4 linked regions of the Homo sapiens genome follow. The protein of the gene in region 2 purifies or fractionates together with the protein of the main gene of each other region. This does not show direct contact. Each region holds a gene or a part of one and is shown on either strand. Other genes may lie near its edges. The genes, in order: RBM28, PUM3, RPL7L1 and GTPBP4.

Region 1 (8,022 bases), on a different chromosome or scaffold from region 2:
CACACACACACACACACACACACACTTCTGCACATACACTCCTTTTCTGTATGGCAGCTCTAAATGGAGTTGGGGGGAGGCAGGAGGGAGTTGAGGGAATACAGCTCGGTGTTCACCAGCTCCAACACTTCTTTGATTTTCCTCAGCAAGGATAACCTCAGCCCTTTTACTTCATAAAGAGGCCAAGATTTTGTTTAGAGGATCCTTTCCTTTTGTCTCATGCCTCATCCCTTACCCAGAGTGGGTTTCCCAGGAAGAATCCAGGTAGATCCTAATGCCTACACCCTTCAGTTCCAAGTCTTGGTATTGTGGGGACTGAAAGACAAACTCACATTCATTCATTTATTCATTCATTCAATCTCTTAAAGAATATTTACTGAATGCCTATGACGTACTAGGTGCTGGGAATAGACAGGTGAACGAGGTAGACACCAGCCATGAATTTACGAAATTGAAAGCCTGTTGGGGGAAGGCAGATGTTAAACAACTAATGACATAAATAATCACAATAGCACAAGTAATTAATTATAGTTGTGACAAGTGTTAAGGCCAAGAACTATTCTGTATTATAAGAAGGTTTAGCTTGCCAGGGGGAGTGGAGCTAGAGGGATGGGATCTGGAAGAGGCTGGCTGAGAACAGCCCAGGCCTCTCTTACTTCCTTTCCTGGCTCCTGCACAGTGATGGATGAGGAGGAGGCCAGCAGTTTATTTCCCCTGGAAGCCACATTGCTGGTGTGATGCAGGGTAGCACAGCACCTGCTATTTAATAAAGATTGCTGCATGTGTCTTGGGTAGATGGATGAGCAAATATTCCTGAGGAAAGAACCATTGCCTGCCCTGATATAAATGGATTGGAGGGGATTGGGCTGAGAGACAGATCGGGGAACCAGGTCTGAACCGTGGGGAGGGTAGAAAGGGTCAGCTGCACTGTTGTCCTCCCAGAAGGGCACAGAACCCTGCACTGTGGGTGGCTGCTGCCCCCTGATGGGCATAGAGACACAGTTAGATTTGTCCTAAATTAAGGAAGATTTGGATCAGAGCTATTTAAAACTTAGCATTTGTGGAGGGTCTCACAAAGGAATATTGGAACAATCTTCTCAGGATTGTTTTCCTTGTACAGACTGCAGCCAGGACTAGGAAGGCTTCCCCTTAGCTGGGGTTCTGAAGCTCACAATTTAATCTTTGGGGGTGGAATTTTAATTCCTAAGGTGATAGGAGTGGGCAGGAGGGAAGGAGAAGGAAGAGGAGGATGTGGAGTCCCAAACCAACTTTGTTACATGATCCATCCCATTGCCTTTATCTGTTTGTTTCTCTTTATCCTGGATAGGATTAACATAGCAACCTTAAAAATCTGTTTTGTATTTCAAAGCTTCCTTTCCTGAGTAATATTTTTAAATTTATTTTTAAATTTTTATTGTTATTGTTTTGAGATGGGGTCTCACTCTGTCACCCAGAGTGCAGTGCAGTGGCACGATAGCTCACTGCAACCTCCGCCTCCCCAGGTCAAGCGATCCTCCCACCTCAGCCTCAGAGTAGCTGAGACCACAGGTGCATGCCACCACAGCCCAGCTAATATTTTGTACTTTCGGTAGAGATGGAGTTTCATCATGTTTCTGAGGCTGGTCTCAAACTCCCAACCTCAGGTGATCCGCCCGCCTTGGCCTCCCAAAGTGCTGGGATTACAGGCATGAGCCACCACACCGGGCCTACAAGGCATTTTTTTTTTTTTCTGTCTGACTTTCTGGAGGGCCAAAGAATGATAACATCTGCTTATTGTGAGAGGGTTCTGAGAAAGTTAGCCAAACCTTTAGCAGAAAAATACCTAGGGGAAACCTTCAACAGAGAGGGCCCTTCTCCATCACAGTGCTCTTGCTCACTCCTCTCTCAAACAAGGGCAATTTTTCAAGAGTGTTAATGGGAAACCATTAGGCATCCACCTTAAGGTCCTATTTTGGCTCCTTCTGACTTAGTTTTGTTTCCTAATCTTAAAAAATCTTTAAGGGGCTCACATTTTTCTTCAATTATATATATATATATATATATATATATATATATATATATATATATATATAGAGAGAGAGAGAGAGAGAGAGAGAGAGAGAGAGAGAGAGAGAGAGAGAGAGAGACTGCATTGACATGCTTAAATTCCAAAGACCTTAAGTTCTTTAGAGATGGACTAAGTGGCTGGTATCATTGCTTACAAATGTGTTTTGAACTTGATGGAGCTAATGTTGAAAAATAAAGTTTAGGCTGGGTATGGTGGCTCATGCCTGTTATCCCAGCACTTTGGGAGGCCGATGACGGCTGATCACTTGAGGTCAGGAGTTCAAGACCAGCCTGGCCAAGTTGGTGAAACTCTGTCTTTACTGAAAATACAAAAATTAGCCAGGCATGGTGGTGGGTGCCTGTAATCTCATCTACTCAGGAGGCTGAGGCAGGAGAATTGCTTGAACCTAGGAGGTGTAGGTTGCAGTGAACCGAGATCGCACCACTGCATTCCAGCCTGGGTGACAGAGCGAGACTCTGCTCAGAAAAAAAGAAAAATAAACTTGTATTTTATTTTCAGAAGTCTCGAACTCCTGAGTTCCAGTGATCTACCCATCTTGATCTCCCAAAGTGAGTTATATATTTTTTTGAGATGGAGTCTTCCTTTGTTGCCCAGGCTGGAGTGCAGTGGTGCAATCTCGGCTCACTGCAACCTCTGCCTCCTGAGTTCAAGCGATTCTCCTGCCTCAGCCTCCCGAGTAGCTGGGATTACAGGCATGTGCCACCATGCCCGGCTACTTTTTGTATTTTTAGTAGAGACGGGGTTTCACCATGTTGGCCAGGCTGGTCTCGAACCCTTGATCTGGTGATCCACCCACCTCGGCCTCCCAAAGTGCTGGGATCACGGCCGCTCCTGGCCGTGAGTTGTATTTTTAAAAAATAATCGTGAAGTTTTATTTTAAGCATAGATTACTTACTTCGAACTAGAGCTCCATAAATGTGATGTTTAGCGTCCCCCTAATCTCCACTCCCATCACTATCAACCAGTCGTCTAGCCATCCAAAATGTATTGAAAGTGAATGGGGCTTGAGGAGATCATGAAACTTAATTTTCACCATAGTGCCTTATAAAAGGTACTAAAACTGTAAAGTTTTTGAGTTTTCTATCTGCCATGTTACTATCATTTAAAAGTAATGATTTGGCTGGGCTCAGTGGCTCACGCCTATAATCCCAACACTTTGGGAGGCCGTAGTGGGAGGATTGGTTTATCCCAGGAGTTCAAGACTAGCCTGGGCAACACAGGGAGAACTGTCTGTACAAAAAAATAAATAAATTGGCCAGGCATGGTGGTACACACTTGTGGTCCTAGCTTCTCAGGAGGCTGAGGTGGCAGTATTGCTTGAGCCCAGGAGATCAAGGCTGCAGTGAGCCATGATGGTGCCACTGCACCCCAAGTTGGGTGACAGAGCAAGAGTCTGCTAAAAAAAAAATTATTTAAAAAATGGCCTTGGGTACTTTTTTTTGAGCTAGTTGTTCTGCAAGGTGTAGCTCTCTTGCACCTATTCAGGTCCTGAGCCCAGTGGCATGGCAAACACTCTCTGTGTTCCAGAACCAGGAGCACCCAGATTTCCTAGCCAATTAAGAGCTCTCAGCTTTGGGTCTGTCTGATGAGCTGACTTGAGACAAAGATCTTCTGTTTCTAGGAGGACATGGGTTCTAGGTCTCTGTGTATAAGTTGGATGTTATGTTTGCTTTGAGTGTGTTTGATGTGGTCCTGCAGTGTGTGTGCTGTGATTTATTTGTAAGAATTTTTGGACTAATAGTCTTCCCAGCCAGGTGTGGTGGTTCACACCTATAATCCTAGCACTTTAGGAGGCTAAGGGGGGCTAATTGAGCTCAGGAGTTTGAGACCAGCCTGGGCAACATGGTGAAACCCTGTCTCTGCAAAAAATACAAAAATTAGCCGGGTGTGGTGGTGCACCTGTAGTTCCAGCTACTCAGGAGGCTGAGGCAGGAGGACTGCTTGAACCTGGGAGGTCGAGGCTGCAGTAAGCCGAGATCGTGCCAGTGCACTCCGGCCTGGTTGATAAAGTGAGGCCCTGTCAAAAAAAAAAATCTGTTTCCACCATTAGACTGTAATCTCTATGAGGGCAGGGACCCTGTCATTTCTTTGCTCACCAGTTTTATCCCTAATGCTTGGCTCATAGTTAGAGCTCAGTATATATTTATTGAAATAATAATTGTGTACTATCTGTGTCTATGTGTATTTTAGTAGCTACAATTTGTTTGTGAGGCTGAGGTGACAGACAGCTGGTGTTCTCCGAAAATGAGAATCGTCCGAATGATGTATATGATATATCTATGTCTACGTGTTAGTGTTCCGGTTGTGTTTTATGCACGTAATCTGGGAATTTGTGGAGGCACTTCAGAAAATATCAAACACCCACAGTATATCAGATCCTGAGTTACGCCCGGGGCAAAAACGACTTCTTCTGCCTGTCCTGCTAACTTTGGGGAGGATCTGGAGGTGAGATTTTTAAACAGGGTAGAAATTATTTATTTTTATTTTGTATATTAAGAAAAAAAATTACTTTTTGGAGGCCTTCCGGCAAAAACCAGAAAGCCTGCTAGGCAAATTCTAAAAAAGCTGTAACACTAGGGTAGAAATTATTGATGCCAAGTTTACACAAAAGTGGCGAGGGCGATGCTAGGGCAGGGGGCGGAGCCCCGCTCCAGAAGCTACGCCCCGGGGCGCCATTATTTTTTCATTCCGGAACCTTTTATCCCCCTCCCGACCATGTTTTCCTCCGGTCTCTTTTGGGCAACGAGCACTTCCGGAATCTCTCGGCGTGTGAGCTTGGTTGTCCTACCAAAGCCAGCGTTTCGGCTCGCGTGCGCCGGCCTAGTTTGCTCGCGTCCTCACGCGCTTTGGGTTTCCCGGTCTCATGGCCGGCCTGACCTTATTTGTGGGCCGCCTCCCGCCCTCGGCCCGCAGTGAGCAGCTGGAGGAACTGTTCAGTCAGGTGGGGCCGGTGAAGCAGTGCTTCGTGGTGACTGAAAAAGGTAGGGGCGGGGCGGTCGAGGATAGGGCTGGGGTTTCCTGCGATCGAGGGCACCTTCCCAAACTTCAGGGAGCCGTATCATTCTTTACCCTCCCCGAAGAGAAGGGACAGGGAACTGAGTTTCTTTTCCAAACTGATTCTGCTTTAGATGCGTTCATAGGAGTCAGTTTATGAAGGGCAAAGCATTCCCTTACGTTTCTATAGCGCTTTCTGTTGATTATGCGCGCTAAAAATGAAAATAGTTAACTAGAGCATCAGTAAGACTTATTGAGAGTCACCTGATTGGCAGGTACAGTGATCAGTTTGATACAGGTTATCTCATTTAATTTTCTCAGCAATCTTACCGGATGGAGAGTCTTAATGTCATTTTACAGACAGGAATCCGGGATTTAGGGGAATTTAGTAACTTTAAGTTTGTACGGCTGTTAAGTAGTGGACCCCCGATTTGATCCTCAGACCTGGACATCTTAGCCAGGATGCTATCCACTTGTTCATTCATTTATTCAGCAAATACTTAATACCTACTGTGTGCCAGGAAGTGTTGTAGGTCCTGGGGATGCAGCAGTGCACAACACCAAACCAAAAAAATCTTTGATTTTATGTCTTCAAGGTGGGGAAGAGAGCCAATAAACGAGCCAATAAACAAGCCAACCGTGAAAATGATGTCAAATGCTAAGGAGAAAAATAAGCCAGGGAAAGGGGTTAGGAAGTCTATGTGCATGTGTATAGTGGGGAGAGGGGGTGAAGAGTGGCAATATAGATAGGGTGGCCAGAGAAGGACGGACTGAGGTGAGAGAGTGAACACATGCCTCTCCGGAGGAAGAACAATTCAGGAAGAGAAAACAGCAAGCTCAAAGGTACTGAAACAGAGGTGTTTTTGGTATATTGGAGGAGTAGTAAGGAGGACAGGGTGACTGGATTGAAGTGAGTAAAGGGAAGAGAATTAGGAGATGAGATCTAGAGTAGCAGATCATGTAAGATTTTTTTTTTTTTTTAAAGACTGCGTCTTGCTCTGTCGCCCAGGCGGGAGTGCAGTGCCACGATCTCCGCTCACTGCAACCTCTGCCTCCTGGTTCAACCCATTCTCCTGCCTCAGCCTCCCAAGTAGCTGGGATTACAGGCGAGTGTCACTACACCTGGCTAATTTTTGTATTTTTAGTAGAGACGGGGTTTCGCTATGTTGGCCAGGGTTGTCTGGAACTCGAGACCTCAGGTGATCCGCCCGCCTCATGTAGGATGTTATAGACCATTGCAAGGACTTTGGCTTTTACTCAGAGATAGGAAGCCACTGATTTTAAGCAGAGAGCAGTAAGTGTGATCTGGCATTCGTTTTGAAAGATTCTCTCTCTGGCTGGTGTGTTGCCAATAGACTGTTGGAGAATAGGACAAAAGCTTATGTACTTAAAATAGGGACCGAAAGTCCTGTACAGTAATGTTTATTAAACTGCAGATTATTACCTATTAGTGGGTCTTGAGTGGGTCATGACTAGAGTTTGTTTTGTTGTGTTTTAGAAACAGGGTCTTGCTCTGTCAACCCTGTTGACAGTTGGAGTGCAGTGGTGCGATCACAGCTCAATGTAACCTTAAACTCCTGGGCTCAAGCAATCCTCCTACTTCAGCCTCCCAAGTAGCTATGACTACAGACGTGCTTCACCATGCCTGGCCAATTTTTGAATATTTTTTGTAGAGACAGGGTCTCACTACGTTGTCCAGGCTGGTTTCAAATGATCCTCCTGCCTTGGCCTCCCAAAGCACTGGGATTACAGGCATGTGCCACCACGCCTGGCCTAGAGTTCTTAAAAAATTAAATAGTATAGGAGTACGTCCATATATGGTAAAGGATAAGTATTTGTAAAACTTTTAAGTTTTAAATAAAGAATATATGTATGTACTGGGTTCCAGTGTAAGTAGCATTCCGTACCCAGGTGGTTGTATTCCAGGGAAGAATAGGCCATTGAATGGGAGTTCTCCTTTGAGTCCTCAGAATATAGGCTACATGCAATCTTACCTTACACCTTGTGTACTTGGTCTAAATCCTTAAAAATCTCTTACTTCCTTTTAAAAAACTATGCACTTTCCTATCCAGACAGCTGATATGTACTGGAAAGAGTGCTGCACTCAGTGAAACGGGAGGGAGGGTATGTGGAATGAAGTCTTCCTCAATAGCAGTGCATGTCACTTCACCTCTTTAAGATGGGAATAATTTCACAGGGTTGTCAGGGACTCTAAATGTATGTGAGCATGCTTTATGCAGACATGTAAAATGTGTGGTATTTACTGTATGTCCTTTCATTTGGGTGTCAAACTCTTTTACATTTCAGCTGCTTTACTTTTGGTTGTACTGATCATGAAGGGCTATGAATTTTCTTGTGCTCATTTTCTGAAAGGTGAGTGGGCAGCTTTTATGATAAGGAGTTCAAGAGAAGAGAAAAATTGATGTTATGTTGCTTTAACCAGTTTATGTAGATCAGTGTCCTGTGTCAAAGGGCTTATACCCTGAAGGAGATTCAAATGCAGTGGAAAGAGAAGCAGAGCATATGAACTATGTGTCCTTTTCAGGTAAAGGCAGACTTCTTGATCTGTCCTTTTCCTTTTTGATGCAATAAATTATTTAAAATTTTACTATACAAAATGTTAAACCAAAAAGGGCAAAGGTGGGTTACAGTTGATATTTGTAGTTTTCATCTCCTTGGTCCTAATATTATTCTTTGTGGAGTCCTATGGAAGAACATGGGGGCTGGTGAGGAGGAGTTAATTCAGCTACTAACACCCTGTGTGACATTAACCAATTCACTTACTGTCTTCCATCTCAAATTACTTACTTGGAAAGAAGGGGTGATAATATTTGCTTTACCTATTTTGAGGTGTTCTAAAGATAAAATGAGACAAGAATGCACAGCTGCTTTGGAAAGGTTTAATTTGATATCGACAGCTAAGGCGTTGGTAATAGTGGTCATAACATCTGCAGTCTCTC
Region 2 (7,627 bases):
CATATGCACATACCTATATTTATTTTTATATCTATTACAATAACTTGAAGCTCATACTGATGTTTCCAAATCTAATCAAGCACCACATATTTTCCTCCAGGCATCTCCTCTTGCTCATTTGTAACTTCCTTCTCTGACAGTGAGCAACCTGCTTCCCACCATCTACAATTTATTTATACACATATTCCACCCTACTATACATGCATAGTTTCAGAATTGCTAACCTGTACCCCGTGAGAAATAAATTTACAATGACAGTACAGTGTTGACGTACAATTCTTTTTTGTATCCATTCAAAATACTTTTCCAAAGTTACTTAGAGGCTTGCATGGTGGCTCACACCTGTAATCCCAGCACTTTGGGAGGCTGAGGCAGGTGGATTACCTGAGGTCAGGAGTTCAAGACCAAACCCCATCTCTACTAAAAATACAAAATTTAGCTGGGCATGGTGGTGTTGCAAACATGTAATCCCAGCTACTCAGGGGGCTGAGGCAGGAAAATCACCTGAACCCAGGAGGCAGAGGCTGCAGCGAGCTGAGATTGTGCCACTACACTCCAGCCTGGGCAACAGAGTGAGACTCTATTTCAAATGTTAAACTACCATAGCAATTAATAAACATTTCAGACAAGATGTTTGGAGAATATATGGACATCCTACCTCCTCTTAAGTTTTACTTGCTAACTTTAGCATTCAAGTCAGTGTATTCTGCCTGCAGCAATTACTGCTGCAGGCCAAAAAAAAAAAAAAAAGGTTCTTAGATCAGCCCTTCGGCCCCTCACCCTCTTTAGTGAAGTTACATGTTTATAATATAGTTTAACTGATTTGTCACAGCCTGCATTCCATCCCCAGAAATGCTGGCAGATTTATTAAATGTGCATATAGTCAAGTTTACTCTTTCTGGTGTATAATTCCACGGGCTTCAACAAATGGCTAAGACTCATGCATCCACTACCACAGTATCTTACAGAAAAGTCCTGTCACTCTAAAAAGTCCCCTGGTACAGCTCCTTTGTATTCAACTCCTTCCCTCTTTCCTGACTGCCAATGATTAGGTTTTCACTCCTGTTTTGTCTTTTCCAGAATGGCATTCTTATACATGGAATCATACAATATGTAACTTTTTGAGTCTTGCTTTTTGCACTGGGCAAAATGCAATTTGCTTTGCTTGGGAACCCTGTACCTTCGTAATGAATCATCACATTCAATAGTGTCTCTTGGAATTCGCCCCCCTTTTTCCTTTCCCTCTATTACCCCATTCAGGCTCCTGTTACCTCTTGCTCAGTTTTGTTTAGATCCTATCTGCTTTGATCCACTTTCCGCTGCCTGATTAACCTTCCAGTAGCACACCTATTTCATGTCATTTCCATGCTCCAATAGCTTCAAAGCTTTCCCACTGCCTTCAGGAAAAAGTTCCAACTCAGGCATTCACAGCCATTCAAAATGTGGTCTTAATTCACCCCACTCATCACCACCACACAGGAGCCACTATTCTTATCAGAATAGTGAAGTTTAAAGCCATTCTCTCTACCAACACAATTTCTACCCATCCTTCAAATTCAGTTTAAATGACATTTTCTTATAGACCAACCTCTACATGTTAGCATTCCTCAAATCTTTGCCCTAGGGAACTTCCCTTCTCTCTCCACACTTCTCCCTAGGTGGTCTCATCCAATCTCCTGGCTTTTTATGCTGAGTACTCCCAAATCATGTCTCCATTATGAACTTCTCCTTGGGGTCCAAACTTGTGTATAACTGCTTATCTGATACCTCTAATTATGTGTCTAACAGGAACCTTACCCTTAATATGTCCAAAACATAATTCTCTATGTTGTTCTTTATGTTATTGTTGTTTGCCCCACAAACAACAATATACTATTTTTCCCTGCCCTATCGTCCTCCATCTCAGCCAATGGCACATCATCTACTTTACTGCTCAAGTAAGAAATCTGAGTTACCCTTGACATTTTCCTCTCTACTCTGCCACGCTGAACCATAAGTTAGTTCTCTTAAATGTCCCTTACGTCACCACCCTAATGCAAACTATTACCAATACAATCTCTTGAGCTTCCAAATGTAATACATTTTCTAAAGAGAACCAGGGCCTATTCATGATTCTCACTTGCTTACAAGTCTTCAATGTTTTCTACACATGGTAATAGGAACGGAAATGTTTTCCTATTGTACAGAAAAAAAAATTCCCCATCATGACCTTCAAGGCCCTACAGAACCTAGTTCCACTCTATCCGGCTAACTTTATCTTGTACTCTAACTATACTCCTTCCTAGCTCCCATCTCAGGAACTTAGCCCATTATCGCCTCTGCTTGAAGTACTCCCTGAGCTTCCAAATCTCCGTTTAAAGATCACTTCTTCAGACTCCACTATCTGCCAACTCAGCATCCAGTTCGTTTCCTCCCAGCACTTAGAATCTGCGTACATTCAGGCAAACCGCCTAGCACTGGAGTTGGGGTTTGTGAAGTAGCACAGACAGGCTGATCAGGCCGAGCACGGGCTGGGATTCCGGAGTGAAGCTAGTCCACTCTAACCCGGCACGCAGGGCAACGTGGTGGGAGAGAGGTCGGAGTCCCGCCCTTCTTTTTTTTTTTTTTTTTTTTTTTGAGACGGAGTCTTGCTCTGTCTCCCAGGCTGGAGTGTAGTGGCACGATCTTGGCTCACTGCAAGCTCCGCCTCCCGGGTTCACGCCATTCTCCTGCCTCAGCCTCCCAAGTAGCTGGGACCACAGGCGCCCGCCACCATGCCCGGCTAATTTTTTGTAGTTTTAGTAGAGACGGGGTTTCACCGTGTTAGCCAGGATGGTCTCGATCTCCTGACCTTGTGATCCGCCCGCCTCGGCCTCCCAAAGTGCTGGGATTACAGGCGTGAGCCACCGCGCCCGGCCAGTCCCGCCCTTCTTGCCAGGCTCCAGTCAGTCCCAAACTCCTAGCCCAGAAAGAGGCCAGAGGAGACTGCCCAGTGGACAACAGCCCCGAGAGACCTTCCCGACTTCCAGCGCCCGGCAGGGTGCGAACCCCTCCCAAGAGCGACCGCTGAGCCTGCCACACTCACCGCACACGTGGGACCGAGACAGCTCGCGCAGCGGATCCCGACCGCCTCTCCGCTTCCGCTTCCTTGCCTTGCTCCGCCCCCGGGCCGCTTTTTTTCATCTTCCGCGGCGGATCAGGGACTAAGAGGTGGAGCTTCCCAGAGAATACAAAAATTCGGAATTTCTATTGGTCCGCTGCTGTTATGCCTCCTCTTGAGGCGCGAGGATTTTGGCCCTTGCAAGAATCCGTCGGGCGGAGGACGCGACAACGGCCACGGGAAATGACGTCATTAACCCTGTGGCTTCCGTGCTGGAAAGAGAGGGAGAGCTCTTGCGAGGCAGAACAGGCTGCTGAAGGACAGACCTGGCTGGCGCGGTTAATAAGAGGCCTGCATCCCGTAGCCTGAACAAATATTGAAGTAGCTAAAGTTTCTAAAGTGTGTTAATTTGCATACTTCCTCAGCAGTCCAGCGTGGAGGATAAAAGGGGTATCTTGTGAGTCGATTTGAATTGTAATCCCGTTTTTTTCACTTGCTAGCTGTGTGGCTCTGGGAAAATTACAGTTTTTATGAGCTTTGGCTTCCTGATCAATAAAATAGAAATAATTAAGTGATACGTGCAAAGCGCTTAGCATGGAACGCTCTCAATAAATGTTTGCCATTTTTAGTGTCTGCTCGTGCCTGGAAACTGCTGTTATTCCATTTTATACTTCAGGAAATAAGATTGTGGTTAGGATATATGCCCCATTTTCCAGATGAAGAAACTGACACCACAAACTTGCTCGTGTCAAGCAACAGAATTTTATTCTTTAACTGTTCTAGAGGCAAGAATTCCAAAATCAAGCTGTTGGCAGAGCCCTGCACCTTTTGAAGGCTCTAGGGGAGAATGCTTTGCTTCTTCAGCTTCTAACGGTTCCAGGCGGTCCGTGGCCTCTTGTTGCATGACTCCAATCTCGGCCTGTCTTCTAATGGCCTTCTCCTGTGCCTGTGCCACTTCTCTGTGTGTTTTTAGGACACTGAACATTGAATTTAGAGTCCACGGGGATAATCCAAGATCATCTCATCTGGAGGTCCTTAATCACATCTGCAAAGGCCCTTTTCCCAAATAAGGTCACTTTCACATGTCCTGGGAGTTAGGACATAGACATATCTTTTGGAGACTATTCAACCCACTGCATCTGTAAAGTTGAGGAACTGGCACTTGATCCCTGGTGCCAGACTTCAGATTTTACTGTCTTCCAACTTACTCCGTTTTCTGGCCACTAAGGAGTTAGAGTTGAAACTGGTAATTTAGTAGACTGTATGCTTCTTGATGACAGGGGCCATCATTACTTTCCAGGCACTTATCTCACTATGCAGCACATAGATACTTGATAAGTTCTTGTCGTCTACCTTAACTGTTACTAGTTTACATTTCAGCTCATTTAAATCTCATAAGAACGTTTTAAATAGGTCTTTTCTCATTTTACAGAGAAAGGCAAAACATAGTAGCTTTGGTCCAGTGAGCCTGACTCTAAACTCAACGTGGCTGCCTCCGTACTGCTTTCAATAATTCAGTAAATGCTAAGAGAAGAGAATATGGAACAGGAATTGCAGGAGGCCCATCAGCTGTGCCTTTTGGGCAAATAGCATAGTAGTGGGGATATTAGACACCTTGAAACACCTGACAAGTAAATGCTGGCCAAAAAGAAAGAAAAATCGCAAAATACACCCTATCACACAACCCTGGGAAGGGATACGTTTGTGTTTTCAACTCGACAGACAGCAGCACCCCATATCCTTGAAGATAGGTCCATGCAGTTGCCTTAAGCATCTGCACCAAAACCCTGCTATTCATTTGCCTTTTCACCAGGGAGGAAAAAAAAAATGTTATCACATATCAAAGCCCTTGATTATTATTAAAAACTTTTTTATCAAGTCTTCTGTGAAAGTGGATTGATTTGGATTTTTTTTTTTTTTTTGGAGTGAATTGAAAGCATCGTGTGGTTTTGCAGAACAGCACAAAAAAAGCTTATCCTGTAATTTTTTTTTTTGTCAAGCAAACCCATTAATTCTTCAAATATCTAATGATCTAAATGTAGACCACTAGGTGTACTCCTACAAGCCTAAGATGCTCTTCTTGCGTGATACACAATTTAATCAGAGCAACTAGACTTGCACACATCCAAGAGGTTAATAACAGTACTATAGCAATGCAATGACGAGCATTGAGATTAGAATCAAAGGAACCTGGCTTACAATCTAAATTCTGTATGGCCAAGGACAAGATAGCCAACTTGTATGGGCCTCAGTTTCTGCATATGTAAAATGGGAATAACAACACTTGTTTCTGGAGTTGCTGTGAGGCTTAAAAGTGATAATATCTTAAAGTTCTTAGCCAGTAGTAAATGTTGAGTGATTTGTAGCTTAAGAGAGAACCAAGGTGTACCCATTTGAAATACTTTGGGGCCGGGCGCTGTGGCTCACACCTGTAATCCCAGCAGTTTGGGAGGCCAAGGCAGGTGGATCACCTGAGGCCAGGAATTCGAGGCCAGCCTGGCTAACATGGCCAAACCCCATCTCTACAAAAATACAAAAATTAGCCAGGTGTGGTGGTGCATGCCTGTACTCCCTGCTACTCTGGAGGCTGAAGCATGGAGAATCGCTTGAACTGGAGAGGCGGAGGTGCAGTGAGTGGAGATTGTGCCACTGTACTCCAGCCTGGGCAACAGAGTGAGACTCTGCCTCAAAAAAAAAAAAGAAAAAAAGAAATACGTTTGACTTCACATAACGGAAAGTTCAGCTAATGGTGGCTTAAGCAATCATTTTCTTAACATAAAAATTTGGAAGGTACTTGGTTGTTGTGGTTCAATGACACAACAATGTCATCAAAGACCCACGCTCTTCCAGTCTCTGTTCTACCACCATCCTCAACGTTGACTTTTTATTGTCCCATTTACTGCTTTTTGATTGCAAGATGAACTCCTCAGTTTCCATATTTATCTAAGAGTTCAGGGCTAGTGAAAGTGCAGAAAGAAATGAAATCCACTATTTCCTCCCAGTGGGGCTCCGTCCTTTTATCCCAGAAGGAAAAGACCCAACAGGAGTCTCCCTTCTATTTCAGTGCCAAGAACTGGATTACACGGCCACCCCAGAATTGAAAGACCATCAGATACAATGTTAACCAGGCATTTGGATTTCATTCTTTTTCTAGTACTCTGGTAAAATTAAAGATCACTTAGCAAATATGCTTTTATCCAGCAGTAGAGATTTAATTTGTGACTTAAGCTAATCTGGTTTAAAACTTAAAATAACTATAGTATCCCAGGTGGTGGATAGCAATCTGGGCAGCGCATTGAATCACCTGTGGAGTTTTTGTTTTTGTTTCTTTAAGTAGCAGTAGTTCTGATTTAATTGGTCTGGAATGGGACCTGAGCATTGAGAATTTGATGCCTAGATCATGCTAACATGCAGCTAAGGTTAAGACCCAGTTATTTAAGGAATGGGGTTCAAGTTTTGTTTGTCTGTTTGAGACAGAGTCTTGTTCTGTCACCCAGGCTGGAGTGCAGCGGTACGATCTCAGCTTACTGCAACCTCTGCCTCCCGGGTTCAGGCAGTTCTCCTGCCTCAGCCTCCCAAGTAGCTGGGACTACAGGCGTGCGCCACCAGGCCCGGCTAATTTTTGTATTTTTAGTAGAGACGGTGTTGGCCAGGATGGTCTTGGACTCCTGACCTCAGGTGATCCACCTGCCTTGGCCTCCCAAAGTGCTGGGATTACAGGTGTGAGCCACTGCCCCGGGCCTGTTGATTTGATATTTTAGTTAACTAGGGGTTAAATCTCCTGGTTCCTCTTTGTATTGCAGGCACCAGAATTTAAGAATTAAATATACAATATGCTTCTCTCTGTAAGTAGAACATTGGAGAGAATTGTATCTTTCTTGCTGACTGAGTTCTCCTAAAGTGATTTAATACCATTAGATGTTAAAAAATGGTTTAAATTTGAACTATACACTTTCAAACATACTCTGGAAAATGTTTGCTTCTTTTTTCAATTTCACATAATTTTGTGTAATTTTCTTTTTTCCATAAAAATAAAATAGGTTAGGTGTCAGCTCCCATACATCTTCCCCTTCCCAAAATCAGTTCTCTGGAGTTCTAATTAGTGGATTTTTAACGAATTACGTTGTTTTTCTGTTTCTCAAATGCATAAGCAGAGATAGAGGGCATGTTACTGATATAAAGCATAAGTGATATTTTGGCAAGGATTGGGCTTTATTTTCAGGACCTATTAGAATCATAAATCCATGGAAACGGAGCAGTTGCCAACACATTTTTATTTAGTGAAAAAGAACTGCTTCTGAATAGTGTGCATTATGTTTTCCAATATCGTACATTTGCTACAAAGTGCACTAATGTAGTCTAAACATTAATTGAACATTCATAATGCTGTAGTTGCTGTCTAGTAAACACAGTATTAACCTTGTCCTATTTTGCTTTCTTTGATGACAAACTTTGGAGCAGCAGAAAATTACATGGCTAAGATGTAAGTTTATCTGATTGTAGTAGTCTCACCTTAATAAAAGCTTGTGTCAGCACATGATGGAGAAA
Region 3 (7,616 bases), on a different chromosome or scaffold from region 2:
CTCACAACTTGTTCAACGAATTAGTTATGTCATGGTACATACATATAAGTGCGCAATTTTTGTAACATCTTTTATTTGTATACAATTATAAATTACAAACTTGTTTTATTAGGTTTTTTAAAATTTATTTTTCGTCAACTTAGTCCCTTTTATTTACCAGCAGTTTGCTCTGACAGAATAAATTACAAACTATTGTTTTGTTTAATCCCTTTAACCATCATGTCAGGCACACAGGTTGGAGAATATTAGCTCCCATTTTATGGACAGAGTGGAAACACTGTACCCATATTTAGTGTAAGACAGAGCTGGGATATAAGCCTTGGGCTTCCATAGTCACAACTGCTTTTTTGCATAACTTTGTAATACATCATTTTAAAGTAATCTGATTTCACAATGTTTTACAGTATAGGAGTAACATCTATAGCATCTCTTCTTGGCAGGTTACCTCTGGAGAGAACCAATCTAATTACCTCATACGCTGGCACTTTTTTTTTTTTTTTTTTTGAGACAGAGTTTTGCTTTTGTTGCCCAAGGTGGAGTGCAATGGTGTGATCTCGGCTCACTGCAACCTCTGCCTCCCTGGGTTCAAGCAATTCTCTTGCCTCAGCCTCCCAAGTAGCTGGGATTACAGGCATGCACCACCACATCCGGCTAATTTTGTATTTTCAGTAGGGACAGAATTTCTCCATGTTGGTCAGGCTGGTCTCGAACTCCTGACCTCAAGTGATCTGCCTGCCTCAGCCTCCTGAAGTGTTGAGATTACAGGTGTGAGCCACCGTGCCCAGCCTAAGCTGGCATGTTTTAAGGCAGTTACATCTCTAACTTGATTTACCAGCTATGCTTGAGGGTCCAAGGAGCCAAAATTGCAGCCAAACTGATCTTAAAGGACCAGGGAATAGAATGGTCAAGCATGTTTCCAAGTTTAACCTAGGCCTGGCACATCCTTGCCAATTGCTCAGATGGCAAGTGAGGGGCAACTAAGTGAAGAGAATAGCAGGAAGACCCACTTGGGGTGGACACTGATGAAAAACACAAGCAGTATCAGACTCACTGTTTTCAGGATTAAAATCCCCAGATGCCCTGTTATTGGTCTATGTCACTACCAGTAGGACAAAAGGCAATGCTTCTGAAGACTAGAATATGCAAGGAAAAAATTAAGGTGCCTGCCTGCCTGGGGCCTAACGAGCCAAACAGTGCTAATTTCATCCATGCCAAACAAAATTGTTCATTCCTTGCTGATTTGGGTTTTAAGGAACCATGCTGATCATCAGAGAAACCAGGCAATTCTATTCTGAAGCCCAGGGGAAGAAATGGTGGGGATTTCTGAGTTACAGATGGTGCAGGGGTTAACACTATCTGCCACTATGAAGGGAAAAATCTATCTTGGTAAACTTTGGTCTTCCATAGGACATGGAACCAGAGTAGCAAGATCAGGGCCTGCGTGACCGATCCTGATTGAGCAGGACTTCCTCACATAAGGTACACAAGAGCTGGGCGCAGTTGCTCATGCCTGTAATCCCAGCACTTTGGGAGGCCCAGGCTTGTGGATCACTTGAGGTCAGGAGTTTGAGACTAGCCTGGCCTACATGGTGAAACTCTGTCTCCATCTCTACTAAAAATACAAGAATTAGCTGGGTGTGGTGGTACATGCATGTAATCCCAGCTGATCAAGGGGCTGAGGCAGAATCACTTGAACCCAGGAGGTGGAGGCTGCAATGAGCTGAGATCATGCCACTGCGCTCCAGCCTGGGCAACAGGGTGAGACTGTCTCAAAGAGAAAAACAAAACCCATAAGATGCACAGGTATCTGAGAAGGGTCTAAACACCCTAGAACTGCAAGCAAAATTTTGAGTGTATACATGTTTTCCTGGCGAAGGGGTCCTCATTCTCAAATCCTGAGCTTTTAGGAAAAAGTACTAAGCCAGTTTCAGGTTACGATACAAAAGCCACCAGATACACTTAGAGCCAGTCAAGTTTGAGAATTCTCAAAGCCATCACTGAAAAGTTGGAACACATACTCACAGCAGAGACAAGTGAACATTTATTTTTATGCCTTTCTTCCTATGTGTATTTCAAGTCTTTTTCAAAACAAGGCCCCAGGACTCTCCAGATTCAATTATGTCCTTGGGCTTGGTCGACTGCTGCAGGAGTCTCAGGGAGCCTTCTACAAATGCTAGAGTGACTCATTTACCAACATTAAACCCTAGGATACATGCAACAAAGCAGGACTCCTTCCTCCATGGAATGTGCCGATTTCAGATGACACAGCACCCAATGCAGAAAACACTGGAATTTTTCCTTGGAACTCGACTGTGATGAGAGGTGCTTGACATGAACATATGCTACTGTCTTTTCTTTTTTTTTGAGACAGAGTTTCGCTTGTTGCCCAGGCTGGAGTGCAATGGCGTGATCTCAGCTCACTGCAACTTCCACCTCCCAGGTTCAAGCGATTCTCCTGCCTCAGCCTCCTGAGTAGCTGGGATTACAGGCACGTGCCACCATGCCCGGCTAATTTTTGTATTTTTAGTAGAGATGGCATTTCTCCATGTTGGTCAGGCTGGTCTCGAACTCCCAACCTCAGGTGATCTGCCCACCTCAGCCTCCCTAAGTGTTGGGATTACAGGCATGAGCCACCACGACCGGCCAGCTACTGTCTTTTCTTTGACCCTTTCCAGTTTCTGAAGATAAAGCAGGAAATAATCTTCTCTGAAGATACTTGATAAAAATTTCCAAAACAAAACACATGCTTCCACTTCACTGATAAAAAATTTACCGCAGTTTGGCACCTAAGAGTATGACAACAGCAATAAAAAGTAATTTCAAAGAGTTAAGATTTCTTCAGCAAAATAGATGATTCACATCTTCAAGTCCTTTTTGAAATCAGTTATTAATATTATTCTTTCCTCATTTCCATCTGAATGACTGCAGCAATAGTTTTTTTTTTTTTTTTTCCGAGATGGAGTCTCGCTCTGTCGCCCAGCTGGAGTGCACTGGTGCAATCTTGGCTCACTGCAATCTCTGCCTCCTGGGTTCAAGCGATTTTCCTGCCTTAGCCTCTCGAGTAGCTGGGACTACAGGCACGCGCCACCACACCCAGCTCATTTTTGTATTTTTAGTAGAGACAGGGTTTCACCATGTTGGCCAGGATGGTCTCAATCTCCTGACCTCATGGTCTGCCCGCCTTGGCCTCCCAAAGTGCTGGGATTACAGGCGTGAGCCACCGCGCCCGGCCAGCAATACAGTTTTTAGTTACTCGACATCTTTAAGCCTATAACTCTTAGGCTATGCATAGCCCCATGTCCTAATCAGGCATTCACTGATCCCAGCAGGTCTCCATCTATTTGTACCAGCCTCCTCTATTCCTCCCAATCTCAAGGTTACTCTTAAATACTAGTAAATGCAAAAAGAACTTGTAAAGTGGCAAGGCATGGCCTATCAAAAGTCAGCCCAAGGGCAGTTTTCAGCCCTGCCTCACCTGGGTCTAGTTCAGCTGACGGATGAGCTGATTGATGCGTTCACCCCGATAGCCAGGTGTGCCCATCTCCTTGAGGAAGCCCACTCTATTTTTGGTAGCATGACGGGCCACTGAGAGGTGGAAAGGGCACAAGAACCATGAGATCTCCTGGAAATGCTTCCCTGGGAAGGCAATTTCATGAATGAGGTCTTCCAAGCAAATGACGCCAAACTTCCCTAAGAAACACAAAAGCACAGATTCCTTTATTTAACATGTATCCAGCATATACTAAGCTGGCCACTCTGGCAGACTCTTGGGGCCCCAAGAAGAATACAACCTGAATCTCACATCAAAGCTTCAAAGACCCTGGCTTTCTGCCCCAGCTGATCCCTAAGCTGTAGCACTCACCCAGGTGCTCCTCAATCACTGTATTGTCTGTCAGAGGGATGGTCTTATTCTTGACCTTGGCTTGTCCACGTTTCAAAATGAGTTCTCGGACAGACTTCAGATTTGGAAATCTATGTAGGAAAATAAAGCACGGTTTTCACCAGCACCTGGCACACTACATACCAGTCCTGCAGCCTGGCTGAGAGGTTGGAGAGGTTCTCCCACACACTCACTTCTCCCAACGAGCAAGTGTTCTGCAATCACATTCCAGCTGAAATGCTTGGAAATACTCCTGATAAAGAACTGAAGTGACCCCACTTACATAATTAGAAATTTAAATTTATGGATGTAAATGTTCACCAGGGAAAATATTGCCAACAAAAACAAAACAGAAACCATGTCCTAGCTTACCTTAGGGGCTACGACTCTGGCCTTAGGTGACCCTCTACTCAAGATGGTGCAAGAGTTGGAAATAAAATCCAAGTTTTTGTTGGGTTTCAATGTTTGAGGAATACTACTCTTTTTTTTTTTTTGAGACGGAGTCTTGCTCAGTCTCCCAGGCTGGAGTGCAGTGGCACGATCTCGACTCACTGCAAGCTCCGCCTCCCAGGTTCATGCCATTCTCCTGCCTCAGCCTCCCAAGTAGCTGGGACTACAGGTGCCAGGCTAATTTTTTTTGTATTTTTAGTAGAGACGGGGTTTCACCATGTTAGCCAGGATGGTCTCGATCTCCCGACCTCGTGATCCACCGTGTCTGGCCTTTTTTTTTTTTTTTGAGACAGAGTGGATTGCAGTGGCACAATCTCAGCTCACTGCAACCTCTGCCTCATGGATTCAAGCGATTCTCCTGCCTCAGCCTCCCAAGTAGCTGGGAATACAGGCACACATCACCATGCCTGGCTAATTTTTTTTGTATTTTAGTAGAGACAGGGGTTTCACCATGTTGGCCAGGATGGTCTCAATCTCCTGACCCTGTGATCCACTCCTGACCGTGTGATCCACCCGCCTCGGCCTCCCAAAGTGTTGGGATTACAGGCATGAGCCAGTGTGTCCGGCCAGGAATACTACTCTTACACATGCACTGCCTTTAGCTCTGCTTTAAGACTTTCAAGAACCAAGCTTTCCTTGACCCAGCCTTAGCCTATGACTGAACCAGCCCTACTATGGTATTGTTCAGACCCCTCCCTACCCTGTGTCCCATGGTTATTACAGCTACCCACTGATTTCAGGTTGACTGTGGTCACAGCAAAATGTCCCTTCTACAGCAACATGAGCCCTGGAAAGCAATACCCGGTGCACCCTGACACACTCAAATAGAAATCTAATGTGAATTCACATGGAAAACCTTACTTACCCCCAGGTCACATAAGGTTCCACTATACGCAGCATTTTTAGATTCTGGGGGGTGACTTTTACAAAGACACCACTAAAAATTTTCTTTAGGCGAAGTCTTGCAATGGTTCTCTGCACCAGTAAACTCACGCCGTCAATCCTGAAATGAACAGCAACAGAAGTCAGACAGACTCCCTCCAGTTTATGTCAGTCCAGCAAGCACAACATGCGAGGTCACTACACTGGGTAATCTGGAATAAGACACAGAGACTATGCCTTAAAGAGCTCAGTTTAGTGGGAGGCGGTTATGAAAACAGATCCTTTTCATAATGTGGAGCAGTGCCTGGAATGCTATGGAAATTGAACTTGTGTGTGTTTCAGGGGTAGGCGGAGTGGTGGTATGTAGGTCTACACATGTCCAGCTAAGGAAGCTGGATGTGCTTCTATGGGCAGTAAAAGCTACTGAAGATTTTAAGCAGAAGAGACCAGACCAGATTTCTTTCTGACAATCACCAAGGGCAGTGTATGGGACAGATCACAGTATGACACTAGAGGCAAGGAAATCCAGGAGGAAGGTTAATACAATAGTTCAGGAAAAATATGAGCAGTGGTAGAGGGCTACAAAGGACAGAGCTCATAAACATGCAAAATCCACAGGTTTCTGGTTTGGGTGATTGGGTAGGGGAAACAGCAAGAAGTAGAGTTGTACATGGGGTGGGCAGGGGGTTGGGAAAGTTCCACTAAATGAGGAAAAATGTCTCCCCTTCACTGAATATGCTTCATCCACTCAGCCTTGTTTCAGTTCCTAGAATGATGCCTTGCTTTCCCTACCTCAGGACTTCAGCACGTATGCCTGAAAAATCTCCCAACACTGGTGAACGCCTTTCACATCTTTCAGGTCTCAGGTTGAAGTTCCTGCTTTAGAGAGGGTGTCCTCAACCCCTCTCCCTAGTGAGCACTTTACCCTCATAGCACTTATTTTCAAGCCTATCTGTCTAAGGTCTTCCAAATATTGCAGACTAAATTGTGCTCAACCCTGACATCCTAGCACAATTTGCCTGAGTGGCTTGGGGCATATTATCTCCCTAGAAAGGGGTCTAAAGCTTAAGCAACACTTTGCCCCAGCCTCATGCAATTAGAAAGACACCAGTTCCTTACCTTTCGATGCGTACAACAAAGGCCAAGGAATGTTTATCTGGCAATTCCAAGGCATGAGGTTTCACTTCTAGTCGTCTGAGACGCACCTTGTCACGTTTCTGCCGCCAGGAATCATGTAGGAATGATTCCAGTCGCTTAAACCTGAGCCCTTTTCCTTTCTTCTGCTACAGAGAAGACAGACCATCATCATCATCTTGTGCCTCCATACATTTTTACTTTTAGAACAGTAATTCATAAGTGACAACTGATATAGCTTATTTCCCCGTGTTCCACAATGCGAAGCAAAGCAACATTCTCTATTTTCATATAAAGGAAAAATGAGAAACCAAAGTAAAGGTGGAGTTGAGGAAACTTGGGAATTATTGGGAAAAATAACGAACAAAAAATTAGTTTACATATTAATCAGTGTTTACTAACAAGTTTCCTTAAACTCCACGCCAGCATTTGCCTGCAGGTGTTAAATATTTGCTAAATGAAGACATAAACCATATACACTTGGTGCTCTGCATCTGTGATTCAACCAACCCCAGATGGAAAATACTTTGGAGGAGCACATACAGTAGCTCACCCTGTAGTCCCAGCTACTTAGGAGGCTGAGGCGGGAGGTTCTCTTGAACCCAGGAATTCAAGGCTGCAATGAGCTATGATCCTGCCACTGCACTCTAGCCTGGGTAACACAAGACCTCACTCCTTGTTCTTTTTTTTTTCTGAGATGGGGTCTCGCTCTGTCGCCCAGGCTGGAGTGCAGTGATATGATCTCGGCTCACTGCAACCTCTGCCACCTGAGTTCAAGCCATTTTCCTGCCTCAGCCTCCCAAGTAGCTGGGATTACAGGCATGCGCCACCACACCCGGCTAATTTTTGTATTTTTAGTAGAGACAGGGTCACCTTGTTGGCCAGCTTGGTCTCAAACTCCTGACTTCAGGAGATCCACCTGCCTCAGCCTCCCAAAGTGCTGGGATAACAGGCATGAGCTACCACACCTGGCCAAAGACCCCACTTATTTTTTTTTTTTTTTTTTTGAGACAGGGTTTTGCTCTGTCACTCAGGCTGGAGTGCAGTGGCACAATCTCAGCTCACTGCAACCTCCGCCTCTCGGGTTCAAGCAATTCTCCTGCCTCAGCCCCCTGATTAGCTAGGATTACAGGCGCATGCCACAGTGCCCGTCTAATTTTTTGTATTTTTAGTAGAGATGGGGTTTCACCATGTTGGCCAGGCTGGTCTTGAACTCCTGACCTCAAGTAATCTGCCCGCCTCAGCCTCCCAAAGTGTTGGGATTACAGAT
Region 4 (7,616 bases), on a different chromosome or scaffold from region 2:
TCCCAGCCTCTTCCCCTCTGCAGTGCGCGCTCTTGGGCGCAAGAAGCCTTGAGACTTCCCTCCTCCGCACAGCTGTGCCCGTGCCATCCCCTTCCACGAGGCCTGGCCCCCGTCTCACCCTCTGCACTGCTGGCCAGCATCTCGTACAGGCACATCTGCCTGCTGGGCTCCTGGCCGGGTTGCCTCATTGGGGGGTGATAAACGTGTGTGTTTTAGTTTTCATTTTTGTCTTATTTGTAGCCAGTGAGGTTGTATTTGGGGTGACATTAGAACGGACACGTGGGATGTGGCACGAAATCAGTGTCTCAGGACTGAGTTCCTTGTGTGTGTCTGCCGGGAGCATTGGAAGTGAAGGAGGCGGTCTCTGCACATTTTTAGCCTTGGAATTTAATTGTTTTAAAAAAAGGAAATGGTGCACAGGGGTTACTGACTTGCTGGCGGCTGGCGTTCACGTGGTCTCCATTTTCTTCACAGAACCCTCCCTGTGAGGTAAATGGCACATAGGCAGGGCCCAGGTGGGTCTGGACCAGGGCAATCGCTCTCCTCTGAGTCAGGGAAACAAAGCTCCCATACACACTCTGCCACACTCACTGACTCAGGGGTTTTCTCATTGTTAATTTTGCTTCATTACAACTCCATTTTTAAAGAAATTGGAAGAATTAGAAAAAGAAGAAGAGCTGAGAACAGCTGCTGGAGAGTATGACAGTGTATCTGAGAGTGAAGACGAAGAGATGCTGGAAATCCGACAGCTGGCAAAGCAAATTCGAGAGAAAAAGAAGTTGAAAATTCTGGAGTCCAAAGAAAAGAATACACAGGGACCCAGGATGCCGCGAACTGCTAAGAAGGCAAGTTTGTGTCTTTCCAAAGCAGTGTGATCTAGTTTTTGAAAATTGGATTCCTGTGTGATCATTGCTAAATAACAACTTTTCAACCCATTTATGGCCATAAGATTGCACATTCTTGTTTTATTGGTGTATGGATTTGCAAGATCGCTCACGTATTGATCTTTTATATTCTTTACTGCGTCCTTTCTTGGTGACTTTCAGCTTCGAGTTTGGCACTACTCTAGATCCAGTCATTTTGCAGTTGTACAGATTAAAACTGTAACTTATGGTTCACAGACGTTCAAGGCTATCAGTGAACATTTTCCTCTTCTTTTTTCTCTCTCTCTTTTTTTTAGGGGGGAGATGGAGTCTTGCTGTGTCTCCCAGGCTGGAGTGCAATGGCGCCATCTTGGCTCACTGCAGCCTCCACCTCGCGGGTTCAAGCAATTCTCCTGCCTCAGCCTCCCGAGTAGCTGGGATTACAGGCACCTGCCACTACGCCTGGCTAACTTTTGTATTTTTAGTGGAGATGGGGTTTCACCATGTTGGCCAGGCTGGTCTCAAACTCCTTACCTCAAGTGATCTGCCTGCCTTGGCCTCCCAAAGTGCTGAGATTACAGGCGTGAGCCACCACGCCCGGCTGGTTTTCTTGTTCTTTAATTTCTGCATTAAATCTGGACTCTTTAGGCCGGGCGCAGTGGCTCACGCCTGTAATCTCAGCACTTTGGGAGGCTGAGGTGGGTGGATCACGAGGTCAGGAGATTGAGACCATCCTGGCTAAAACAGTGAAACCCCGTCTCTACTAAAAATGCAGAAAAATTAGCTGGGCGTGGTGGCGGGCGCCTGTAGTCCCAGCTACTCGGGAGGCTGGGGCAGGAAAATGGTGTGAACCCGGGAGGCAGAGCTTGCAGTGAGCCGAGATTGTGCCAGTGCACTCCAGCCTGGGCAACAGAGCAAGACTCCATCTCAAAAAATAAAAAATTTAAAAAAAAATCTGGACTCTTTAGCAATTTACAGAAACCTGACGCAGTCTACAAAAGGCAATTTATTGGCTCTGTGGCAGGGTGGGACTGGGGGAAGAAAGCCCACATGCAGGGCAGTTAACATGTAACCAGAGAAGTCACTTGACATTCAGGATGCCTCTCAGTGGGTCTTCCTGTTTGAATACACTGTTTTCACATGGTGGCAAGTGACTGGTTATGGCGGACTTGGACATTTTTGTACTTCTCCAGGTGGGGCTCAGCCATCTCTGGGAGGAGAGAGGTTGGCGCACTGCCTTTGTCTGAGGCCACCTCACTAACCTCAGCTTTAGTGTCTCACCTCTGATGGAGACGGTCACTCTCTCCCCCGTGTTGCGGTGAAGAATGGACAGACGTGGAGGATACGCTGATTCTTCCCACAGCAACTGCTCTGTTAATGTTAGTTTTCGTGGGATTTAATTGAGCTATCCAAAAACATGAAAGCGGGGCCCAATAAAAATTACAACTTCTAAAATAAGTATATTATAATTGTTGCAAAATATGTATACATATATATTGCCTTGAAGTTTTTTTCAACATTTCATCAAACTAATTTAAAGCTAATATTTCTTTTTATCCTTCTCAGGTTCAGAGGACAGTTTTGGAGAAGGAGATGCGTAGTCTTGGTGTTGACATGGACGATAAAGACGATGTGAGTGTGGGGGCGGTTCATGTGTTTATGTGGCTGGATACACCTTTTTAATAAAGAAAACTGGCCGGGCGTGGTGGCTCATGCCTGTAATCCCAGCACTTTGGGAGGCCAAGGCGGGCAGATCATGATGTCAGGGGTTCGAGACCAGCCTGGCCAACATGGTGAAACCCAGTCTGTACTAAAAAAAATACAAAAAATTAGCCGGGCGTGGTGGCGTGTGCCTGTAATCCCAGTTACTCAGGATGCTGAGGCAGGAGAATTGCTTGAACTTGGGAGGCAGAGATTGCAGTGAGCTGAGATCGTGCCCCTGTACTCCAGCCTGGGCGACAGAGTGAGACTCCATCTCAAAAAAAAGAAAGAAAGAAACCAGGGTTTTGGAAAGCCGTGGGAACGTGGGAAATTACAGCAAAAAGAAATGAGAGCTTCCAGTTTTTCTCTTTTGAGATTCGCTGGCCCTGGGACTGACTTGAAGTGATGGGTTGAGGATTCCCTGACCCTGGGTCTGGGTTGAAGTGGTGGATTGAGGCTGCACTCCAGCCTGGGCAACAGAGCAAGACTGTGTCTCAAAAAAAAAAAAGCTCCACAGCCAGCACGAGACAGCACCATGACGTGCCCAGGGTGTGGCTGCAGACCCTGTCCTCTAGATGTGCAGTCTGCAGTTTCCGTCTGATGGTTTCTGTCTGATGGTTGTCCCTTTGTGTTCATATCAGTAACCCCCAAAATGGGGCAGTGAGGGAGAGAGCATTGTTTATATCTGAAATATAAATTGTGATGCTATACTATAATAATCACTTTTAAATGAGAGTTCTAAGTTTCTTTAAGTGGAGTTAAAATCAGCTTTCTTACGTAAAGCAGCTTCCGTTAAGTGAATAAGAATATTTGACCAACAACTAATGTGAAATTGTTACTAATGTGAACTTGAAATGGTGTCACTAATATGAAAATACTGCGTGTATTTTCAAGACCTTTAGCCCATGTGTTAATGGTTCAGACGCTCCTCTCCTCCCCTCTTGCTGGAGTGACCTCATGCCTGTCGCTGAGCCTGGGTGCGGGGCTGGGGTCCTGAGCTCTGAGCCTGGGAGTGGACCTGGGGTCCTGAGCGCTGAGCCTGGGAGTGGACCTGGGGTCCTGAGCGCTGAGCCTGGGAGTGGGGCTGGGGTCCTGAGCGCTGAGCCTGGGAGTGGGGCTGGGGTCCTGAGCTCTGAGCCTGGGAGCGGGGCTGGGGTCCTGAGCGCTGAGCCTGGGAGCGGGGCTGGGGTCCTGAGCGCTGAGCCTGGGAGCGGGGCTGGGGTCCTGAGCGCTGAGCCTGGGAGTGGACCTGGGGTCCTGAGCGCTGAGCACTGAGCCTGGGAGTGGACCTGGGGTCCTGAGCGCTGAGCACTGAGCCTGGGAGTGGACCTGGGGTCCTGAGCGCTGAGCATTGCTTCCCCTGCTTTGCAGGCCCATTACGCAGTCCAGGCAAGAAGATCCCGGAGCATCACTAGGAAAAGAAAGCGGGAAGACTCTGCTCCCCCGTCCTCTGTGGCCCGGAGTGGGAGTTGCTCTCGAACTCCACGTGACGTTTCTGGTCTTAGGGATGTCAAGGTCAGTCTCTGTGTTGTGTAATGTAATAAAATGACAGTCTCTGTTGTTTATTGCACAGGGTTCAGGGCAAACACCAGCAGTTGCCATTTGCAGGAACTATGGCAGGGGTTGTGTGTACTGCATGCCCTCGTTTTGTGGCATCCTTTAGAGGAGAGCACGGGTCAGGGTGCAGGTGGATGCCCCTGACAGCTGCCCTGGATGGACCCCTCCTTGGCACTTTGCTTTTGCGGAGGGTGGCCAGAGCATGGTCTGACAGCACTAGCAGTCTGGGCTTAGACCCTGCTGTCTGAAGAGGGCCAGGAAGTGGCCACAGCTGAGCACCAGGAGGCCTCAAGTCCAGCAAGCCCCCCATGGGAGGAACAGCAGAGGGAACTCCTGGGTTGATTGGCGGGTGATCCTGCTCATCCTTAGGTTGCAGGATTGTTCCCCCCAGGTGGAGAGCTTGAGTCACATTTAGTTTATTTGTAGCGTCTTTTGGCAAAGACACTTAAGATGGACACAGTCTGTCTTGCTGAAACGTCCTTTTATTAAACACAACAACTTTTAGTTTCAGCGTTGTGGTAATGGAGATGCAGGAGAGTCTGTGTATAAACTGCAGTCTCCTTCATGGAAGCCTGAGCTTCACTCCTCTGTGCCATTGCCATCTTGAAACCTGGCTGTTAATATTGGCATTGCCACTTGTCAGTCAGACCTGAGGAAAACAGGTTCATGGGCCTGAGTCCTTAGCTTGTGTAAGAGGGAGTTAAAACAGATGTGTGCTAACCTTCTAGGTCTAAAGTGTATCTAGTCCTGGGTATAAAGCTTGTCCTGGGTATGATTTTCATCCAGTCTTTATACAAAAATACTCATTGAGTTCCTGCAGATAACTGTGCTGGGCTTAAGAGAAAAGAGATGTAACAGGGATAACTGTGCTGGGCTTAAGAGAAAAGAGATGTAACAGGGGTAACTGTGCTGGGCTTAAGAGAAAAGAGATGTAACAGGGGTAACTGTGCTGGGCTTAAGAGAAAAGAGATGTAACAGGGATAACTGTGCTGGGCTTAAGAGAAAAGAGATGTAACAGGGTCTCTTCGCTGAGCAGACCTGAGCCATTAAACAGATTGTTACCCAGTAGTTGAAATTCAGAATGGAAAATTGGTTTTAAGTAATGAACATACTTTATTTTTTTCTCCTCCTTTTAGATGGTGAAGAAAGCCAAGACTATGATGAAGAATGCTCAGAAGAAGATGAATCGGTTGGGGAAGAAAGGGGAGGCGGATAGACACGTGTTTGATATGAAGCCCAAGCACTTGCTGTCTGGGAAGAGGAAAGCTGGTAAAAAGGACAGGAGATAGTATCCGTTTGGTTGGCGTGGCTTCGCTAGAGTGTTGCTGTTTATTTCCTGGTTTGGCACAGTATGGTTTCATGAAATTGGAGCTCTGTATAAACTGAAAAAGACAAAATAAGTAAAGCACTTGTTGCTTTGCTGAAAACTATGGTTAACCCTATATAGGTGTGGGAAATTTTTGTCACTGCATAATATTACAAATATTTTGAGTAGACAGTGTTTCCACATTTAATGGAGTATCAGTTGCTTCAGATTTTCAGAACTGGGAAGATTTACTGGTTTAACTAGGTTGTTTTTGATGGAGAAAAACCTTATTTTCTTTTGTAAGAGCTGGGAGCAAACACGTTTATGAGTGTGTCGGAATCCCGTGCTTAAAATACGCTCTTAAATTATTTTCTAGTCTTATTTTACAATGTCTCATTGTAGTCTGTCTTCAACTATTTTATCCAAAATAAACCTCCAGAAGAAAGTAGTTTTCATTTACTTAGCTCATGTTTTGGTTTAGTTATAGTCGCTATGGATTTGGCCAAATAAAAAGGCAAACAACATGACATTTCTATTTTGTTTTAAAGCAAAAATACTTTTGGGGGAGTAAAATGTTGCTGGAGGCATTAGGCAATTAAATATGGGCATTCTCCTATTTCTGTGGCCCGTCCCTGAAGTTACATGTTCAGTAAAACACAAAAACACCGCCAATGCCACCTCAAAAGCACCTGCTGGGGAGCGTTGGGGTGAAGAGCTGTGGGGTCGGAGGGACCTGCCCAGGGGTCCGTGTGCTCCTGGAGCTCCAAAGACACACAGGGGTCCAAGAGCCACCACGGATAAGTTATCAAGTCACACAATCAACATTATAGCTGAGGAAAGGACTTTAGTTAATCACACTTCTGGATTACATGTGGCAATTTTAAAAATTTACCAGGGCTGGGCTGGGCGCAGGGGCTCAAGCCTGTAGTTCCAGCACTTTGGGAGGCCGAGGTGGGCAGATCAGGAGGTCAGGAGTTCGAGACCAGCCTGGCCAACATGGTGAAACCCCATCTCTACTAAAAATACAAAAATTAGCCATGCGTGGTGGTGGGCATCTGTAATCCTAGCTGCTCGGGAGGCTAAGGCAGGAGAATTGCTTGAGCCCAGAGGCGGAGGTTGCAGTGAGCCGAGATCGTGCCACTGCACTCCAGCCTGGGTGACAGAGAGAGACTCCGTGTGAAAAAAAAAAAAAAAATACCAGGTCTGGTTTTTGAAATTCTTTCTCCGTATTAAACACCAAAACTTAACATATAGTTTACTTTGTGTTAAACAACAACAGTATGGCCGGGCGCGGCAGCTCATGCCTGTAATCCCAGCACTTTGGGAGGCCGAGGCAGGCGGATCACGAGGTCAGGAGATCGAGACCATCCTGGCTAACACGGTGAAACCCCGTCTCTACTAAAAATACAAAAAATTAGCTGGGTGTGGTGGCGGGCGCCTGTAGTCCCAACTACTTGGGAGGCTGAGGCAGGAGAATGGCTTGAACCCGGGAGGCGGAGCTTGCAGTGAGCCAAGATCGCACCACTGCACTCCAGCCTGGTCGACAGCGAGACTCCATCTCAAAAAAAAAAAAAAAATACCAGGTCTGGTTTTTGAAATTCTTTCTCCGTATTAAACACCAAAACTTAACATATAGTTTACTTTGTGTTAAACAACAACAGTATGTTTTAAAGCAAGTATGTCTTTATTTGTAAGCATATTACTGAAACGATCAAATGAACAGAAGTGGATAAACGTCGAGTCACTTGGCTGAGACCATACGCATCTTCCGTACTGCTTGTATTAGGATGCAAGATTGAATGTGTCTTTTTTTTAAAAATGCAGCCTTGTGTTGCACTCTGAAATAAGTGATTTAAAAAGAAAAACATGATACAGAGATCCCATCCTGACCTTGGAGGCTTGGATAAAGCTGTGGGGAGACAGCCTCATGGTCCAGCCAGGCTAGTCCGCCTGCTTCAGGACTCTCAAGATCTCCCCAAGACTTTCAGGATCAGCTGCTGTTAATCAAACAAGTGCTTATAAAATGGAAATTGGGACAAAGGAAATGTTAAATTTCCTCCCTGCAACCAGGCAGATGAGAAATATGGAAATAAGGAAAAGGGAAAATGAAGATATGACAAAGTTGATGAAAAGGTTGAAATAGTGATTTATACATGATGGGCAATCAAGTGCCCCTTTTGCCCTGTTTT

What was found.
Region 1: the proteins of PUM3 (region 2) and RBM28 purify together in Homo sapiens (affinity purification with mass spectrometry; 2 studies listed by BioGRID and IntAct, with this or other methods). This does not show direct contact.
Region 3: the proteins of PUM3 (region 2) and RPL7L1 purify together in Homo sapiens (affinity purification with mass spectrometry; 2 studies listed by BioGRID and IntAct, with this or other methods). This does not show direct contact.
Region 4: the proteins of PUM3 (region 2) and GTPBP4 purify together in Homo sapiens (affinity purification with mass spectrometry; 2 studies listed by BioGRID and IntAct, with this or other methods). This does not show direct contact.

What each region holds. Positions count from the first base shown.
Region 1 is NC_000007.14:128,340,703-128,348,724, reverse strand, and holds the start of RBM28 (RNA-binding protein 28), read left to right. Parts: upstream 1-4,816; 5' UTR 4,817-4,931; coding exon 4,932-5,049; intron 5,050-8,022. UniProt on the Homo sapiens protein: Nucleolar component of the spliceosomal ribonucleoprotein complexes.
Region 2 is NC_000009.12:2,840,981-2,848,607, forward strand, and holds the start of PUM3 (pumilio homolog 3), read right to left. Parts: upstream 3,116-7,627; 5' UTR 3,065-3,115; intron 1-3,064. UniProt on the Homo sapiens protein: Inhibits the poly(ADP-ribosyl)ation activity of PARP1 and the degradation of PARP1 by CASP3 following genotoxic stress. Binds to double-stranded RNA or DNA without sequence specificity. Involved in development of the eye and of primordial germ cells.
Region 3 is NC_000006.12:42,882,330-42,889,945, reverse strand, and holds the end of RPL7L1 (ribosomal protein uL30-like), read right to left. Parts: intron 6,496-7,616; coding exon 6,332-6,495; intron 5,334-6,331; coding exon 5,196-5,333; intron 3,973-5,195; coding exon 3,863-3,972; intron 3,691-3,862; coding exon 3,482-3,690; 3' UTR 46-3,481; downstream 1-45.
Region 4 is NC_000010.11:1,011,818-1,019,433, forward strand, and holds part of GTPBP4 (GTP-binding protein 4), read left to right. Parts: intron 1-647; coding exon 648-845; intron 846-2,429; coding exon 2,430-2,495; intron 2,496-3,935; coding exon 3,936-4,079; intron 4,080-5,257; coding exon 5,258-5,410; 3' UTR 5,411-7,616. UniProt on the Homo sapiens protein: Involved in the biogenesis of the 60S ribosomal subunit. Acts as a TP53 repressor, preventing TP53 stabilization and cell cycle arrest.